Linked DNA regions of Homo sapiens: regions 1, 2 and 4 are each linked to region 3. The links come from fine-mapping of genetic effects on gene expression. A gene starts in region 3. Each other region holds a variant in brackets. All regions are shown on one strand. Distances are between the middles of the regions.

Region 1 (5,054 bases), 110 kb after region 3:
TCAAACAAGACAAGTAGGCAATTAGAACAGCATTTATATATTCTATAGCATAGAGTTCTACAGCACAGGTCCAGGCCATGTTTATCTTGTTTTTTGTTTGCAGATACCTATGGGAAAGGACTCTATTACTTGGCCAGCTTTTCTGCCAGCCAGGTGAGTGTGATTGATATGAAGTGAGAATAGGGTTCCACTGGCTTAGGAGGGTGCTGAATATCGTAAGGGCATAAAATACCACCTAGAATTTCTTCATTGCTCATCTTGCTAATTCACATTCTTCTACTTCTCTAGACTTCCGGTGGAAATTTACTATGCTCCCAGGAGGCTTTCTGCAATTAAACCTATCCACATCTCATCAGTAATGATCATTATTCTAGTTTACCATGTTACAGGTGGACGGGCAGTTTCTGTTATCTAGCCCTTGTTCCTGAGTTGCCTTGGAATGGTCTGCACATTTTGGGATTCCTCCACCTGTAGAATATAAGTATCTTAACAGCTGAGACTTTTTGTCTCCTGTAGAGTTCAGGGCAGTGCGAAAGACCCTGTAGCTGCTTGTCAATGCAAAGTGGATGGGAGTTGGCAATAGGCCATAGAGTGATGAAATCATGATTTCCATGATCCAAAGTTACAAGATGGTGACTCTGAAGTTGTCTTACTTTATGACCTACATTTGTGCCTAAAAAGAGGTTAGAAAAATTTGAACTAATTCTGCTATTATATTTTTCTTTTATCTCCAATTCAACAGAATACGATGCAAAGCCATATAATTTTCAACAATTACATCACTGGTACAAATCCTTTGAAACTGGGCTACATTGAAATCTGGGGAGTGGGCAGTGTCCCCGTTACCAGTGTCAGCATCTCTGTGAGTGGCATGGTCATAACACCCTCCTTCAACAATGACCCCACGACACAGGTTTGTGACCAGCAAAAAGTGCGAATGGTATTCTCCACCCTTAATATGCCTAGTGCAGTGCCTGACTGCTTCCCTTCCAAATGATGCCCTCTCCTGCCAGGCCCTCCGGGAATCCCTGAGTTTTCCATGTGTTAGGAATGGACCACGTGGAGATGAATGAAAAATCATGGTTTATCATCATTTGGAATCCATGGCCTGGATTCTTACTTTCCATGTTTGTCTTCTTGTCTGCAAACCTATGTAAAACTTTGTCTTGACTCCCTCACCTCTGCCTCAGAGATCAACTTCCCAAACAGGTTGGAACTATCATATTTTATCAAATATGATACCATCAGTGAAAATTGCTTCATTATTTCATGTGCCACAAAGAAAGAAAAAAGGATGACAAAACTATGATAGAATGCTTCCTTATCACTCAATTTTTTTTTTTTTTTTGAGACGGAGTCTCACTCTGTTGCCCAGGCTGGAGTGCAGTGGCATGTGATCTCAGCTCACTGCAAGCTCTGCCTCCCAGGTTCATGCCATTCTTCTGCCTCCCAAGTAGCTGTGACTGCAGGCGTCTGCCACTATGCCCGGCTAATTTTTTGTATTTTTAGTAGAGACAGGTTTTCACTGTGTTAGCCAGGATGGTCTCGATCTCCTGACCCTGTGATCCGCC[T/C]GCCTTGGCCTCCCAAAGTGCTGAGATTACAGGCGTGAGCCACTGTGCCCAGCCTCAGATTTTTATAATAAACTTATAGAAAGTTTTTGAAACTTCTTTAGCCATAAAGTTTTACCTATATATTTCAATATTGTAAGTGATAATATGGAGGAAAATGTTGAGTGGAGATACATTGATGATTCTGCCTCAACGTAATTTAAAAGAGGTAGACCCTAAATGTGAAGAAGCACTAGAAATAGCTTAACCAACTTGTATCGTATTTAAATTGTACTATTTAAATTCATATTAAACTGTTTTATTATTTAGTTTATTGTATTTATTATTATTTAGAAGAAAAATATGTGTTACAAATTGGTTAAGATATTTCCTCTGTACTGCAAAAGGTGTTGGTGATTCAGCATTTTATAAAAATTCTTCCACTAGTGTCTATGAAGTTTTTTTCCTGAGCCACTAACACACTTTATATACATTTTCATCCTAGTGCTTTCTTGATCTTACTAAATATTCCTTCCTGTAATAATCCTTAAATGTTTTCAGCCCATCCATTCATAACACAGTAATAGCAATGAAGCTTACACAGGCACAGACAATAACAATTATGCCATGAGTGCTGCTTGGCTCACAGTAATTCTATGGTTGTCGATTACAAGACACGCTCTTGTCAGATGAATGTTAAATATGTGAAAAATCTGTACCTTGGGATTAATGCTGTGTAGTGGTCCTGACACTTATCATCCCGATGGTAAATGAAACTTTCTTCCTTGTGTGCTTACTTATTATTTTTTTTCCTGAACTTTTTTCTTTCATAATCCTTCCTGATGATTAAGCCTGAAACAAAAGTTTTCTTTCAGTTTTGCATTCTTTACAGTTATTTCCTCATACTTGTGGTTTTCTTGTCAACAACTTCCCCAACTATACCATAAAGGACTTTGCCCAATCCTGTTGCTGACCAGCTCAGGGACAGACATGCAAGCTGATGAGGGCACATGCAGTGAAAGCTTCTTGACAGCATCTGCCTAGGAAGAAGCAGGAATAGTGGACTCTTGCTGGGCAAACACTGGGGTGCTATAGTGGAATAGGAGAAGGAGGAAACAGAAGGATGGTGCCAAGGAAAATCAACACCTCAGTAGAATGGAAAAGAGGGCATTCTCTCCAGTTTGTGCAGTTGTTTCTCTTCAGCGGTTGCATATTGAACATTTTTTTTTTTTTTGACTGAGTCTCACTCTGTTGCCTAGGCTGAAGTACACTGGTGCAATCTTAGCTCACTGCAGTCTCCGCCTCCCAAGTTCAAGTGATTCTCCTGGCTTAGCCTCCCTAGTAGCTGGGATTACAGGCACCTGCCACCACGCCTGGCTAATTTTTGTATTTTTATTAGAGCTGGGGTTTCACCATGTTGGCCAGGCTGGTCTCAAACTCCTGACCTCAAATGATCCACCCACCTGGGCCTCCCGGAGTGTTGGGATTACCGGCGTGAGCCACCGCACCCGGCCCATATTGAATTATTTAAAGGCCCATCTCTACCACTGAATAATCTTTGTACTCTAAAAAATTAGAAAACACCCTTCTCATCTGAAACTTTGAAGGCAGTCTTTTAACTAGACAATACAATGTAGAAGTATTAGGGGGTTATTTGGACTGGATACTTGCACCTGATTTATTTGCATGCAGGAAATTTCAACACCGGATGCCCAATTCTTTTCCTTTGGTTCCTAACAGGTATTAAGCATCGATGTGACTGACAGAAACATCAGCCTACATAATTTTACTTCATTGACGTGGATAAGCACTCTGTGAATTTTTACAGCAAGATTCTAACTAACTATGAATGACTTTGAAACTACTTATACTTCATACTCATAAAAATTATTGTGTGTTGCTAATTTGTTCATACCCACTATTGGTGAAATATTTCTGTTAATTTTGTTATATGTTTTTTGTGTGAACCCTAAAGGTTAAACCTTAGCCCTGTGGGATAGGCAGTTAGGGAGGTGTGGAAAATCTATGCATTACCTTAATGTCTCTGTGTGGTTAGTATGGTAGTGACTGTTCATCATATGACATTTACTGAAGATGAACTGGGTCCATGATGAAGTGTGTGTATGTCCACGTTTGTAATCATAGAATGGACCCCATTCTTTTGTTAAATACACAAGAGAAAGCTTTCTGTGACAGTTCCAGGTCTTGAAGCTAATCAGCATCTCAAGAAAGTATCCAGAAAGAACATCTGCTAGTTGGTTATAGGCGGTGGGAGGAATAATATACCTAATTGGTTATAGGTGGGGGGAGCATGATAAGCAAAGAAAAGGCAAACACAAGGAAAGATCAGATGAAACAGAAGATGATAGTAAAAGTGATCCTAAGTAAGAACATAATGTAAAATTGTCAGCAGCCTCATGGGGAGGAAAAAGGAAGAGTCAACTCACTTGAAGAAGAGGGTCTTGAGAAATCCTTAGCATAAAGGGCTACTGGTGAGATTGAGATCTGAGCAGGCAAAGCTCAAAAGAGAGTTTGGAGGTTAAAAATAATTTATTTTTGCAGTAGTGTGCTTTGAAATGTGTAAATCTTATTTCTAATGTATACAACCACATTTCACATAAAAATATGCAATTTATATGCCAGATAAAAATAAAACAAGTGAATTTGCAAGTGATTTTGAATTTTGTGCTATTTTGACCATGAGTAATCTCTGTTTGGGGTTAAGGTTCTTGTTTAGCAAACTCTTATGAATTTGTCTTTCTGGTTCTCTTCGGCATCACAGAACCTACAGCCAAATCCACCAATAGGATGATAACCTTTATAATTATCCTTTTTCTTACATCTCTGCAAGGAGTCTTTTATAAGATGTGGGTTTGTGGAAGGGTCTATTGATTACTATTTTAATCATCATAGCAGTTGCTATATTTAGGAAAATACCAACTCCAGTAAAAATAGGAGTTGCAACCTTCTTGCTTAAAATTCTATAGGGTTAAAATGTGAGATAAGGAAATTATATATTAATGTTCAACAGGAATATTAACTTTTGATGTTACCTGAAAATGAGTTGAAAATGAATGTGTGTGGAATGAATGAACCTACTTCTCTGTGTTTTCTTCTTTTCTTATAACCAGGAAGCCATTCATTCTCCCTGCACACTCATGTGTCAGCACCTGCATAAGGCTAGAGACAAACAATATTGTTAAATCATCTAATTATCACAATACGGGGCATTTGGATGAGGGCCTGAGCTAACTAGGAAACTGGTGAAATATGGAAAAGCAGCCATGGGAATCCTTTGATCAAAAAGGTGGGAAACTTGTCAGCTTTCCTCTAACAAACTCAGGAAGGCCACAAAGATGAAAACGTTATTTACTTGATATTTAAAAAATATTTAATGTTACCATCAAGGATATGTTGGTGGAATTTGGCTCTGGCTGCCACAGAATGCTTAAGGAGAGGCATTCTGACTATATAATTCTGATGGCTAAGGCCCTAGTGAGGCCAGTG
Region 2 (4,000 bases), 100 kb after region 3:
CAATTGGAGTATGCTTTCAGTGACCTTCTTAAATCCCCTAGAAATTCCAGGGCAAGCTCCCAACACTGTTCTCTTTCTCCTTTAGAGACAAGACCCTGTGTCCTGGGATGTTGCTTTTGTGAATATTTCCAGAACTGTCCTGCAGACCAGATACACCCTGTTGCCATATCTGTATACCTTGATGCATAAGGCCCACACGGAGGGCGTCACTGTTGTGCGGCCTCTGCTCCATGAGTGAGTGTCCAGCAGGGATCCCAATGCCTAATGGATGACTTATTGCATTCTATATGGTGACAGTTGAATTCTTCCAAATTAAAGACATGATTGCCTTTTGACATGAGCTCTTCAGGTGCAGACCATACTTTATTACTCTCTTTAGCACAGTGCTATACATGCCTTAGGTCATTAATAAAAGGTTATTGATTGAATGAGCAAAACTGAAATGATGCAGTATAGCATAGAATAATTTCTTTCTAATTTGGCTGTGCAAAGGCCTATCTATCTTTTGTAGCAGTTTGGTTATATGTAGCCAGATCACAGGAGAAGGATTTCAGGAAGAGATTTGAGGGAAAAGGGCCATCCTTGCATTTGAAGTTTGCCATGGTTGAGAAATGGGGCAAGTATTTTACAAGAGAGAATACATCTACATCCCAGCATTTCTGAAGTTTGAGGCACATCCCATGGGGAAAGCAGAGGCTGGGTGCTCCTGATGAAGCTAGGCCTAGGAAAAAGGCAAGGATGGCTCAGGGGCAGCTGTATTTCCGACTTGGATCTGAACTTGAGGAGCTTCTTCAGAGTGTCGGGCTGGGGCTCTGTTGGGCTCTGTTGGGCACCTTCATTTCCCTTTCCAGGTTTGTGTCAGACCAGGTGACATGGGACATAGACAGTCAGTTCCTGCTGGGCCCAGCCTTCCTGGTCAGCCCTGTCCTGGAGCGTGTGAGTATGGAGGCCTCCGATGAGGGGAGGATCCCAGCTGTGAGGCTTGGGGAAAAGGACGAGGAGAAGAGGCCTGAGCTGGTGGGGGTCCTAAGACATGGTTTCTTATTCTACCTGTGTCTCTTCCTCTCTTTCTGAGCTGAAGTCCATCACTTAGGTGTTCTTGGCCTCAGCTCCTTCATCTTTAAAATGAGCCTAACAATTCTGGTTCATAGGATGATCAAGAAGAAAACACCTCATGGTATATTCAATGACACAATCGTTTCTTCGTTAACTAAAATAAGGAATAGAAGATCAGATGGGGGCAGTATTGTAAAGAATTCATAACAGTCCTCTAGCACTATTACAACTTTTCAGAAGGATTGCTTGGCAATGTGTGTGTACTTGTATTGCTGCTGGCTAACCCTTCCCTTCCTCTGCAGGAGCTCCTCCCAGCAGTAAAAGCCATTTCTTTACTTCTATTGTTGATTAGGCTTCTGATTAAAATACCAGTTAATTGCACCTTCCCAAAATCTTTTTTTTTTTTTTTTTGAGACAGAGTCTCACTCTGTCATCCAGGCTGGAGTGCAGTGGTGCTATGTCAGCTCAGTGCAACCTCTGCCTCCCAGGTTCAAGTGATTCTCCTGCCTCAACCTGCCGAGTAGCTAGGACTACAGGCACGTGCCACCAGGCC[C/T]GGCCAATTTAAATTTTTTTTTTTATTTTTAGTAGAAACAGCATTCCACCATGTTAGTCAGGATGGTCTTGATCTCCTGACCTCATGATCCGCCTGACTCGGCCTCCCAAAGTGCTGAGATGACAGACGTGAGCCACCGTGTCCAGCCCGCAAATCTTATGGTACCCACAGAATTTTTTTCTGCCCCAGACACAACCTCAGTTGTTTGTCTCTTTAAGAGGGAATGGCGTAAGCCTATTTCTATAAGCAAATAGTGAATTTTTTTTTTTCCCGAAGTCCTGGGTACCAAAGTGCTTTATGAAAGCCACTTGTTTTGGGGTAGACAGATCTCTCCTGTTTGAAAAAGGAAAAGGGATGGAAGGTTTCCTCAATAGGTGACCTCCTGGGACATGAGGCAAGTGGGCCCAAGGCCATCACAATTATTTAACCTCTTTCCTAAGTATTTTGGTTTCTCTGTCCTGGAAAATGGTGCCACTGCCACACCTTGTTTATGTTTCATTTTAGAATGCCAGAAATGTCACTGCATATTTCCCTAGAGCCCGCTGGTATGATTACTACACGGTAAGTTTTTCTGAATGTTTATACAACACGGGAAAATGGTAGAGAGTACAAAGGCTTTAGATCTGATAGACCTTAGGTCAAATGCTGGCTCTGTAACCCACCTGCTGTGTGGTCTTAGAGAAGCCACTTTAACCCTTGTAACCTCGGTTTTCTCACCTCCAAGTGGAGTAAGACCACTTCCCTCATAGAACTGTTGTGAAATGACACATAAAGCATCTCACTCAGGTTTTTCGTGGGTGTTCTCTTTGTGTTAATTTTTAATATTTTCTTATATCACTGCTATTTACAATGTTTTGTAAAGGCAGATGCTTTTGAGATTGTGTTGCAAACTATAGTTTTTGTTTTTAATGTTTATATCTTTACCTGCTGTAAGTTTGTAAGCATAGAGGCCTTTTTGTCTCTGTCTTTTTATTAAATATCTCCTTCCATAGCATAGATGCTCAAAGAAGGGCACTGCACATAATTACCTAAGGTAAGCAAGTGATTAGGCAATGTGCAAAACACACACAGAGGTATGGGACCCAACCCTTGTGAGTCTAAGCAGTGCAAGTGCATTTAGAAATGAGGAAGCAATGAAGAGCTCCTTGCCGCATAGTTTCTGTGCTATTATGTTCCCCAAAGACTTATCTGGGAAGCCAGGGTCTTCCCGGGCAGCTCTGGGGTGGTGGGCTCTTGCTGGGACCCTGACAAGTCAGACCCTGATTCTTGGGGAAGAATCAAAGAAGGCATTTCCTTGGTCTCTAATGGGGCCTCTTCTGACTTTCTGAGGAGAACATCGTTGAGGGCTGGAAATACAGCAAAGGGGTACAAGCAGGGATACAGGAAGCAGAGCATGTGCTGGCCCCTTTCATCCAAGGGGATTGCAGTGAGATTAGGTGAAAACTGGAGAAGGATGTGCATTTTGTTCCTTCTCTTCTCAGTCCATTGGAGCCCAAGTCCTCTCCACAGCCCCAGACTCCTCTTCCTGCTGCTAGTCTGGATCTGCCCTTAGGGTGGTAACATGTTAAGGCTCTGCTATGTGTGTCCCAGCCAGGCGTTTCCCAGGAAGAGGTGGCCAGCTTTCTTTACGTGAGACTGGCCTTTGTCCTGAGTGTGCATGTTGAGTCTCCCATTCACTAACAGAAGATGTCTTTGGTTGAAGAGGAAAAGACAAAAGAAATCATGGAGCAAGCTATTTAGAAAAAGATGAAATTTTGATGTTTAATTAAAATGAAGATGAATTTCATAGTTAATATTAATGAAGAAGTGTCACCTTAATTAATCTTCCCAAGTTTGGGTAACTATTACTCATTCTAGAGCACAAGCTGGCAAAAACTATGGCCCACAGCCAAATCTGGTTGTTAGCTGATTTGCAAATAAAGTTTTATTGGAACACAGCCATGCATATTTGTTCGCTTGTTGTCAACAATAACTGCTTCTTACCTGTAAAGTAGCAGCTCTGAAATGAGAGGATTTTGCCTACCAGGGGACATTTGGCAATGCCTGGAGATATTTTTGGTTGTCACAACAGAGTGGGGGTGAGGAGGTGATGCGGCTGACATCCGAGGATTCTGCTAAATATCAAAAGGCACAGGATAGCCCCATCGCCAGAGAATTGTCTGGCCCCAAATCTCAATAGTGCTGAGACTGAAAAGCCCTGCTCTAGTTGAGAACATGTAGGATGGAAGCATGGTCCCTTAGGTTCTGATACAGGTGAGAGAGTAGCACCTCTTCCTGTCACACATCAGGCAAATGTAGTTTGTACAGTGGAAGCAAAGGCAAGAGACCCTAACAAGATATTATAGCAGCCTTGCAAGATTTCTTGCAGCACTGGGTGAATGCAGAATGGGT
Region 3 (5,180 bases):
GTAAATTCTTTGATTCTATGATGCCAAAGAAACACGGTAAGTCAGTGTTACCACGGTGGTTGTTGTTCACTGATGGTTCATGAAATCAGAAAAGTAAGGATAAGGAAGTAAACTTTCAAAGAGATAAATTGATTCAATTTTGATTATCTGTCTATGTCTACTGTGAAACGACTGTGATAAGAGATAGTGATTTTTGTTTGTATTTTCCAGATGATATACATGGTTTATAAATTTAGGTCTCTTGGCCCAGATTTTTTTCTGAATTTTCACTAGCCCATAAAGACAAATGCCTAGAAATAGCAGTAGCTGAGCAGGACTTTTTAAACTATGTGTGGTAAAACAGCAATTGTTTTAAAATTGTCCAATATATCACAGACTGTGGCTTTTGTAAAATTAAAACTAAATTACTTGAAAAATAAATTTTAAAAAAGCATATACAGATACAAGCTCCATTTTTTAATTATCAAGATCAATGACATGAAATGATTCTGTCAAATTGTAATGCAAGTCTCTCAACACTTACCTTCAATTTCTGTGCTTATTTTTCTGGAAGCTGGCAACCACAGGTTCACAGATAACTCTTGGAGTATCACAGAGCGGGGAACTCTGCCCCACTTGGAGGAAGGTCCACTTAGTAACAGAGCAAAGTTCTTAACCTGGGGTTTGTAGATATAATTCTGAAAGCCTGTGAACTTGGAGGGGGAAAATATTTACATATCTTTTCTTTGCTAAATTCTAATTGAAATTTAGAGTTAGGCTGCAAACTACAGTGGTGTTAGTAGTACCTATGAATTTGGTTTCAAGAGAGGTCACAGTTACTTTCACATCATATATTTAAAACAATCTCAAGATATTGTTTACGCTTATCATGTTTTTGAAATTGCAATCGCTATTAGACATATCGCTTTATTGTTAGTATGTCATTAAAGAGGCACAAACTATAATTTAAAAAATATTATAGTAACTGTGTTTCAATGTAATTGATTTTCTTTGTATCTCAGCTCACTACAACCTCCGCCTCCTGGGTTCAAGTGATTCTCTTGCCGCAGCCTCATGAGTAGCTGGGATTACAGGCACGCACCGCCATGCCCGGCTAATTTTCGTACTTTTAGTAGAGACGCGGTTTCACCATGTTGGCCAGGCTGGTCTTGAACTCCTGGCCTCAGGTGATCTGTCCACCTCAGCCTCCCAAAGTGCTGGGATTACAGGCGTGAGCCACTGCACCTGGCCTAAGAATTAATTCTAAGAGGGGTTTATAAGCATGTCTCAGCTCCATAAGTTCTTCTTGCCCACTGCCCTCCAAAAAGATCAATGAGAACAGCAGGCATTGCAGTAAATAAAGAGTTGAATAATCACAGTGTTGGCCAAACAAGAGCAGGCAAAAACTTCTCAATCCCCTCTCCCTCAGGATTCAAAGGCTAAGGTTTGTAAAGGGTACTTTGGTGGGCATGGGGCTGGGGAACTTGTATAATTGATTGGCAGGGAATGAAATCACAGGAGCACCTAAAACTGTCTTTGTGCAACTGAGTCAGTTCCCAGGAGGGGTGTGTGTGTTGGCCTCAAGACTAGGTGGTGTCTGTTGGTCTACTGAAATGCTAACAAATATCTAAAAGACCAGTTATTTAGGTTTCACAATAGTGATTGATATGGTTAGGCTTTGTGTCAGAACCCAAATCTTATCTTGAATTGTAATCCCCATAATCCCCATGTGTCAAGGGAGGGACCAGGTGGGATGTGATTGGATCATGGGGGCGGATCCCCCTATGCTGTTCTCATGATAGTGGGTGAGTTCTCATGAGATCTGATGGTTTTGCAAAGCAGTTTTCCCTGCTCTTGCTCACTCTCTCTGGCCTGCCGCCATGTTAAGAAGTCCCTGCTTCCCCTTCCACCATGATTGTTTCCTGAGGCCTTCCCACCCTTGCGGAACTGAGTCAACGAAACCTCTTTTCTTTATAAATTACCCAGTCTCAGGCATGTCTTTATAGAAGTGTGAAAACAGACCAATACAGTGATGTTATCTTTGGTAGTTGGGGAAGTTATGAATTTTGTGACACTGGTTGTGTGACTGGGGCAGTAAGCAACTTATAGAAAAACAAACTAAGCCATGGCAGGACATTGTTTATGCCTATTCTTTAGCAAAGTCTAAGCCCCTACCATAATTCCAACCTTGCCTTATGAATGCGCCTTTAAGCTCCAGGCAAGGAGGGGGATCATTTTCCCTTGACTCCAAGTTTAACTATAAACTAAATCCCTCTCATAGGTTTCTTGGCCTTTGTACTAGAATAAGCAAAAAGCCAACCAAAAAAAAAAAAAATCCCCTAGAAAACATAATTTAGCCTGGGAGGTTAGAAGCAAGATGGAGTCAGTCTTGTTAGATTTCTCTTATTTATAGTTCTGCAAAGGCAGTTCAAGAGTCACCAGACTGTTAAAGGATTTCCATACTGCAAACAAGCTTAAGGACACCTTAAAGAAGAAAGAAGAAAACTATTTTTAAAACATTTTTAAAACAACTTCCTTCCATCACAATCATCAGATTGTGCTACTAAACGTCAGTGAGTTCCTGAGAGATTCGGAGTCAGTGCAAGAGACCAGGGCTCTTTTGGAATACTGGGGTCATTTATTTTTTGCTCTTTATCATCTACAAATTGTGTCTGTGTTCTCTTACCAGACATACAGGGTGTCCTCACCACCGATTAAACATTCAGTGCCTGGAGGGGATGGAGTGGGTCATGGGAGCTGGCTTTTCCTTCCAAAAGTCTTAAGGATGTCCTTCTTAGAGCAAGACCACGATTACTAATTAACTAAAAATTCTGATCCTGGAAATAAAAGCTGGCCATTCATTTGCATTTGAAAGCCATTAACATTTTCTTGATAGGTCGGTAAATAGTTACCAGATCTTTGGTTGCTTTGGTGGACTGTGCTCCTCTGCTTTTATTGCTAAGCCATCCTTCAGACAGAGAGGGAGCGGCTGCAAGAGGTAATGAGGTATGTTTGTGAACCTTGTATTCTTTTACGGTTACAGATGTGTGTCTACAAGTGTGTGTGAATTTGAGTTGATCTCTTTTAGTCAAAATGCCCTTGTTGGCCGGGTGCAGTGGCTCACACTTGTAATCCCAGCACTTTGGGAGGCCGAGGCGGGTGGATCACGAGATCAGGAGATCGAGACCATGGTGAAACCCCATCTCTACTAAAAAAATACAAAAAATTAGCCGGGCATGGTGGCGGGCGCCTGTAGTCCCAGCTACTCGGAGAGGCTAAGGCAGGAGAATGGCGTGAACCTGGGAGGTAGAGCTTGCAGTGAGCCGAGATCACGCCACTGCACTCCAGCCTGGGTCGTAGAGCGATACTCCGTCTCAAAAAAAAAAAAAAAGCCCTTGTTAATTTGTTAAACACAAAGATAAACAACACCAATAATAAATCAAAAATTATGCACATGCATACACATGGAACAAAATTCTCATTTATCTTTTTTTCTTAGTGTGTGTATATTTTTCTGAACTAAGGCTGGATCTATAAGCCTGATTGTAGTGAAACCTGTGTGTTTGTGTGTGTTTCTGTGTGAGGTGTGATGAATTATTTAATACTTAGGTTGAGGTAGCAGGCAGAAATTCTTTCAGATTCTGGAAATGAAGTGAGAGAAATGAATAAAAGGAGTTAGAATTTGGGAGTGAGATTAGAGCATTTTCCCTCTGAAAGGATTTGGAGTTGTGATTGAGAAAATGTAACTGAAGAACCAATTATAATCAGAAAATTGAGAAATATATCACTATGCTTATGGGTTTGGTGCCTCTGTTGATTAAATACAGAATAATTTTAGGGGATAGTCTGAGGATGTGTGTAAAATATTGGGATGCATTTATGAGTTGGTGTGCATTGGTGGGTAGGAGAGGTTTCCTGTGGAATGTGGGAGGAGGTCATAAAGAGAAAGGTAGGGTATCTGTCCTGGCAGTCATGTGTGGAGTAGAATGGGAGTGCTCGTGGGAAGAGGAGAAGGTGATAAATTGTTGTTGGCCCTTAAACTTAAAAACTTAAAATAAAATACTTAAAATAAACTTAAAATAAAACTTAAAATAAAACTTAAAAAAAGTTGGATCCTTACTAGTTGCCAGTCTAGCTAGACACACGCAGGCATTTCTTTTCTGACTGGTTACAGAGGTGGGAAGGGAGAGTTACTCTTGGGGAAAGAGAGAGAAATTGAGACTAATCCCCATGGGTCTCCCTGAAAAAGGATACCACTAGGTTCTTCATGCAGGATCTGATCAGTGGCTTTGCTGGGCGAGGAAGACCTCCCAATGTCCAAACTGTCTACAGTCTGTGTCCTGGTGTGGGACAGTAAGTGTATGTCTGTAGGTGTGCAAAGAGGGGGTGAGATGGAGGGGGTCTTTGGTTTGTTGTGCTGGTAGGTCCCTGTGCTACCAGGGACCAAATGAAGTGGGACACTAAATTTAAGACAGCTTGTTGCTATTTCAGTCACACTCTCACAAGATGCCAATGATTATTTTTTATTATCAGGCATTCCCTCACAAATACATTTTAATGAGCTAATAAAATTACTATAAAAATTGTTCTATAAGCATGGAATGGAACTAGAAAAGAAATTTTCCATTTAAAATTTGTTCAGGTGGCAGCTGTGGAATGTGATGAGAAATATAAGCCTTTGCACACCCTGTTGCTGGGCTCAAGGAGGAGTTAGCTGTCTCCTAGAGATGATCCTTTTGCAGTTCAGATGGGGAAACTGAGACCCAGAGGGGTTAAGTGGATTTTTCCAAGGTCATACAGCTGGCTAGGGTCAGAGCTGACTCTTAAATCTCTCACCTTGGGTGTGACCAGACTTGGAAGAAAAAAGCCATTCATTAGCTACCTTATCCCTTCCCATTCACCAAGCAGCTGGGAAAGGATGGCCCAACCTACTAATATCGCCCAGCATTTTTGATGAATAGCTATGGCTCACTGGGGTCCTCTTTGCAAGTTGTTCTTAGTCTATCTATCCACAATGAATCCTCTTTTCCACTAGATCTCATGTCTTGTGTTAGCAAAGGATTTTAAAAGAATGGCTTAGACCTCCATATACACATCAAACGCTGGCTATAATGCCGGAAAGAGGACAAATATCCAGTTTTTCCAAATTAATTTAGATAGCCATTTTAATAATTTGGGCCCCCATGTGGTTTGTCTACTTT
Region 4 (5,180 bases), 240 kb before region 3:
GACAGTTTCATTACTAGCATTGATGAAACATAGTTTACCAGCAATAAGGACCTGAAATATAACTAGAGATGAAATCGTTCATCTCCAGGTGATGCCACAGGAGCTGTGGTTCTATTCTATCTTTCTCTGCCCCTCTTATCTATCCTTTTAGAGTCTTCTTCAGAACTCTTGGGGAAGGTAGAAGAGGATCCTCTTAACAACCTCTGTCAGTGCCTCCCTTAGAGCCTTAGGTCCTACATTTTCCTTTTATTTTTCCACATGAATCATTATGTACATCATGTAATCTTACTTTTTATTACAAGATTCAGGAAATTTTAGAATACTAATAATTTGCCAATAAAGATGAAATAGTAACTCAGTTTTTCAGTGCATCTTTTGCTCTTTAAAGTTTACATCAGCCCTCCCGAGGTCTGCCTGCCAGTTTGCTGCTGTATCCCAGAGGTTGGCTGCCACTGTGCAGGTTGTTTTGTTCAAATGGTAGAAGTCTCTCGTACTGTCTAGGCCACTCTGTCTCCAGTTTGGCCTCTGACCCAGCCTATATATTTGCTTCCCAGCCTACATGTTCTGTCCTCTCTGCCTGAGAGTACGAGTACAGTGCTAACTGTAGCTTAGGTCATATTGGACTTTATTAGGTTCAGAATTCCCAAGCTATGTTATAGGTCTGTGACTTTTTTGTTTTAAGGTATTTTCTGCACACTTGAGTAGCTTTTTTTATACCTACAATGCATTTTGGTTGAGGAAAGATGGAATTTTTTAGCTTTATCCTCTCCTTGCTCAGGAACAGTAGAAAATTCATTGCTGTTTTCTCCTGCCAGCCATCTTTCTTTTTCCTGCAGCTGGGACAGTTAATCAGCATATTAACTCTGCTCTCTTAAGTTCACACATTAAAACTGCCTGGTGATGTAGTCTTTATTCCTTCATGCCACATTCCTTAAGCAAAATTGGGCAGTATATAAAATTTATCTTTTTAGCAACTCTTTCTTCTATCAGCACAGCAGCTTTTATACTCCTTAAGTGTTGTGAGAAATTATGCAGATTAACAGTCCTGTTTAAGCAGGGTAATAAATCTCTGCTTTGGGAAAATGACATGGTGAACAGAAGAGCTTAATTACCAACCTGGAGCAGTTTCTCAGCCCTGAATGCAGGGGTGGAAGAGGATGCTGTGCTGGATCATTGTGAGCCGAGGGGCTCTGCTTTAAACTCTCCCCTGGAGGTTGCCTCTTCTCTCCATGCCTCTGAAAGGCTGTGGAGCTGAAGCAGTGGTGCTTTATCAGACTTAGGTGTGTAGCATGCAGTCTTCAGCATGCGTATGATTCTAGCAGAATGATTCTCGCCTCAAGTCAGTCAGACTTGCTAGGGAAACTTTGCCTACCCCTGGGAAGCCCTATCTGCTGAGAAACTTTCTCCTGCTCCCTAGCTGGTCTAGGAAGAGCGCATTTGGAAATATGATAGCAGTAAATAGCAGTAAAAGACTAGGGGTCTTCTAACCCAAGTTTTGGGTCTTGCATTTCCCTTTTTGATGTGATAGTGTCAGGGAATAAACCTCAGAAAACTGCACTGTGACCTCGATTTGGAGTTTCCTGTTAAATGGTAAGATGAATAGTATACCTAGAAGAATGGGAGAAAAAGTTTCAAACAGTATGTCTGGGGTATCCCATTTTTGAAAAAGAAGTTGTAATGAAGATAGGCTTAATGTCTGGAGGGAGAAACATGAGGATGTTATTATCTCTAGAGAGGGTGATTATGCGTGATTTTCCTTGTTTCTTTACAGTTTTTTAAATATATATTTTAGCATTGAACATATATTACTTTTATAATAAAAAAATAAAACTTTTTATCTGGGGAAAAAAACCTTTCCATTATTTCTGAGCCAGACTAATTTACTCATTCACTTTTAGTGAGTACCACTTTACTGGATATGAATGAGAAAATCTTTTATATATTTTCCCCCACTATCTGTATTTTAGCATCTCATGCTTTTATAATTCATTCATCTGTTAATACGTGTACACAGCCCAAAATGATTTACTTTGAATACCAACCTAGCCAGGCGCAGTGGCTCATGCCTGTAATCCCAGCACTTTGGGAGGCCAAGGCGGGTGGATCACGAGGTCGGGAGATCGAGACCATCCTGGCTAACATGGTGAAACCCCGTCTCTACTGAAAATACAAAAAATTAGCTGGGTGTGGTGGTGGGCGCCTGTAGTCCCAGCTACTGGGGAGGCTGAGGTGGGAGAATGGCATGAACCCAGGAGGCGGAGCTTGCAGTGAGCCGAGATCACACCACTGTACTCCAGCCTGGGCGGCAGAGCCAGACTCCATCTCAAAAACAAAACGAACAAACAAA[C/A]AAAAAAACCAACCTATATGAGATCTACTGTTTGCTGCCTTTACAGTTCTCAAAGAATCAATCATTTCTTAAAACACACTGGACATTTTATTCAAAGATGATCCAAAAACACCAAAGATATATTTCTGTGGCAGTTTTGGCAATAGAGTATACATTTCTTTAGGAATTACTTGTCATTGCAATGTGGATTACAGCCTAACTTTTGCAGCCAAGTTAGGAGAAATTAGTGCTGTTTTCCCTTTGTTCCCTAATGAGATCATGGCAATTCTTGAAGGCAGGGTTTTCTTTTACTAAAACCACCCTTTTTCCCCAATCTAACTCAGCCTCACACAGTGACATGGAGATTGATAAATGTTTGTCATTCGGTTAGGTGGGACTTGAAAAGAAAATGAGGGCAGGATCACCTTGCTATTTTTCTGTTAGAGTTTGCATAATATTCTGTGAAGATTTGTGGGAGTAACAGCAAGAAAATCGTTGTGGAAAATGAGAGGCAAGTCCAAGGTTAATGAATTACAGGGAAATCTCTTAAAGATGTAACAATAATCATATTAATGACTGTCATTTCTCTTCTGGTTACTATGTACCGAGCTAAGCTAAGTACTTTTTATCATTGTCTCATTTAGCCATTATCCTAAGAAGAAGGTACAATAATCCCATTTTACAGGTGAGGAAACCCAAAACTGGGAGAGGTTAAATAACTTGTCAAAGTCATGCATCTTCCAGGATGCACACCTGGAGGTTGAACTCAGGTATGTGAAGTTTGCATTTTGCTTTCTGCCCAATGCCTGCCTCCACTTGCATTCATTCTCCACTGGCCCTCCGTATCCACAGATTCCCGCAACCAACTGTATTTGTCTGTTTTCACACTGCTATGAAGATACTACGTGAGACTGGGTAATTTATAAACGAGAGGTTTAATTAACTCACAGTTCCGCATGGCTGGGGAGGCTTCAGGAAATTTATGGTCGTGGCAAAAGGTGAAGGGGAAGCAGGCACCTTCTTCACAAGGCAGCAGGAGAGAGAGGGCACAGGGGAAACTGCTACTTTTAAAACCATCAGATCTGGGGAGAATTCCCTCACTATCAGGACAACAGCACAGGGGAAACCACCCCCATGATCCAGTCACCTACCAGGTCCCTACCTTGACACGTGGGGATTACAATTTGAGATGAGATTTGGGTGGGGACATAACCAAACCATATCATCCTGCCCCAGCCCCTCCCAAATCTCATGTCCTTTTCACATTTAAAAACCAATCATACCTTCTCAACAGTCCCCCAAAGTCTTAACTCATTCCAGCATTAACTCAAAAGTCCAAGTCCGAAGTCTCATCTAAGACAAGCCAAGTCCCTTCCACCTATGAGCCTGTAAAATAAAATTAGTTACTTCTAAGATACCATGAGGGTACAGGCATTGGGCAAATGTTTCCAGTCCAAATGGGAGAAATTGACCAAAATAAAGGGGCTACAGGCCTCATGCAGGTCTGAAAACCCGGCAGAGCAGTCGTTAAATCTTAAAGCTCTGAAATCATCTCCTTTGATTCCACGTCTCACATGTAGGCCACCCCAGGGCATGCTGATGCAAGAGGTGGGCTCCAACAATCTTGGTCTTGGGCAGCTGCCCCTGCGTTCCTGTGGCTCAGCAAGGTACAGCCCCTGTGTCCACTTTCATGGGCTGGTGTTGAATGCCTGCAGCATTTCTAGGCACTTGGTGCAAGCTGTCAGTGTATCTACCTTTCTGGGGTCTGGAGGATGGGTGCCCCCTTCTCACAGCTCCACTAGGCAATGCCCCAGTGGGGACCCTGTGCAGGGGCTACAACTCCACATTTTCCTTCCACACTGCCATAGCAGAAGTTCTCCTTGAGGGCTCCTTTTAGCCGTGGCTGGTGCTGGATCCACTGGGATGCATGGAACCAAGTCCCGAGGTTGCACAGAGCAGTTGGGCCCTGGGTCTGGCCCAGGAAACCATTTTTCTCTCCAAGACCTCTGGGCCTGTGATAGGAGGGGCTGCCAAGAAGGTCTTTGACATGCCCTAGAGACATTTTCCCCATTGTCTTGACTATTAACATTCGGCTCCTTGTTACTTATGCAAATTTCTTCAGCCAGCTTGAATTCCTCCTCAGAAAGTTGGTTTTTCTTTTCTACCACATGGTCAGGCTGCACATTTTCCAAACCATTATGCTCTCCTTCTCTTAAATATAAGGTTCAGTTGGGCATCTTCTATATATCATGCACCCATATAGGACCTGAATGTAGGGATGTATATAACAGGATTCCTGCACTGAAGGAATTCACAATTAAGCTTATGAGGGGTTAGGGAGGATAAGCAGAAACTTTTATAGCTAACTGTGATAGGGTGTGAGGAGTAGCTTAGAAGAGAATGGATAGGTGAGCTTTCAGCAGAGGAAACAGCATGAGCAAAGATCCAGAAACAAAAGTTTATGAAACAAAGGTGAGGCATGGAAAGTGGGTTGGGGCTAGATAGTAAAGGGCCTTGAAAGCTTTCAGAGAACTTTGGCAATGGGGAGCAATAGAAGGTTTGAAAACAAGGACATCTTATCAGAATTGTGCGTTAGGAGAACAACAAAGACAGAGTGAAGGGCTAGAAGGAGAAAGCCTAGAGGCAGTTAGGAAGCTCTAATAAGCCTAGAAAGGTTAGCAAGAATGGGGATGAGAGGTGACTTGAGGGGCGTTTGGGATTCAAGTTGATTTGACAAATAGTAATTGTGTACCAATTTTGTGCTGGACCCTGTGCTAGGCTCTGTGTTAGAGATACTGCAGAGAATCACTTATAGCTTCTGCCCAAGATCTAGTGGTGACACAACCACTATTGC

Direction of the effects. Positions count from the first base shown, and alleles are read on the strand shown. Sizes are in standard deviations (SD) of each study's normalised expression. Not every link is listed here.
With allele A in place of C in region 4, the expression in fetal neocortex of the gene that starts at base 2,934 in region 3 is lower (moderate effect, 0.65 SD a copy in Walker 2019).

What was found. PIP is the estimated chance that this variant, and not a neighbour inherited with it, causes the effect. A credible set is the group of variants that fine-mapping cannot tell apart.
Region 1: its variant is the best candidate, but not a certain one, in a credible set for the expression of MGAM in whole blood (TOPMed, PIP 0.73).
Region 2: its variant is the best candidate, but not a certain one, in a credible set for the expression of MGAM in blood mononuclear cells (TOPMed, PIP 0.89).
Region 4: its variant is the best candidate, but not a certain one, in a credible set for the expression of MGAM in fetal neocortex (Walker 2019, PIP 0.76).

Annotation. Positions count from the first base shown.
Region 1 is chr7:142,102,527-142,107,580 of GRCh38, forward strand. It overlaps MGAM (maltase-glucoamylase), which reads left to right. Exons shown (of 71, transcript NM_001365693.1): 69 at 104-153; 70 at 743-913; 71 at 3,288-4,221. The coding sequence ends at 3,365. Among named protein-coding and RNA genes, the nearest start is that of MGAM2, 6.7 kb to the right of the region's middle. The variant T/C (reference allele first, on the strand shown) is at 1,572.
Region 2 is chr7:142,095,480-142,099,479 of GRCh38, forward strand. It overlaps MGAM (maltase-glucoamylase), which reads left to right. Exons shown (of 71, transcript NM_001365693.1): 64 at 86-234; 65 at 852-936; 66 at 2,114-2,170. Among named protein-coding and RNA genes, the nearest start is that of MGAM2, 14 kb to the right of the region's middle. The variant C/T (reference allele first, on the strand shown) is at 1,610.
Region 3 is chr7:141,992,946-141,998,125 of GRCh38, forward strand. It overlaps MGAM (maltase-glucoamylase), which reads left to right and starts at 2,934. Exons shown (of 71, transcript NM_001365693.1): 1 at 2,934-2,985. RefSeq lists an enhancer at 2,632-3,133.
Region 4 is chr7:141,756,274-141,761,453 of GRCh38, forward strand. No RefSeq gene overlaps it. Among named protein-coding and RNA genes, the nearest start is that of TAS2R3, 5.2 kb to the right of the region's middle. The variant C/A (reference allele first, on the strand shown) is at 2,348.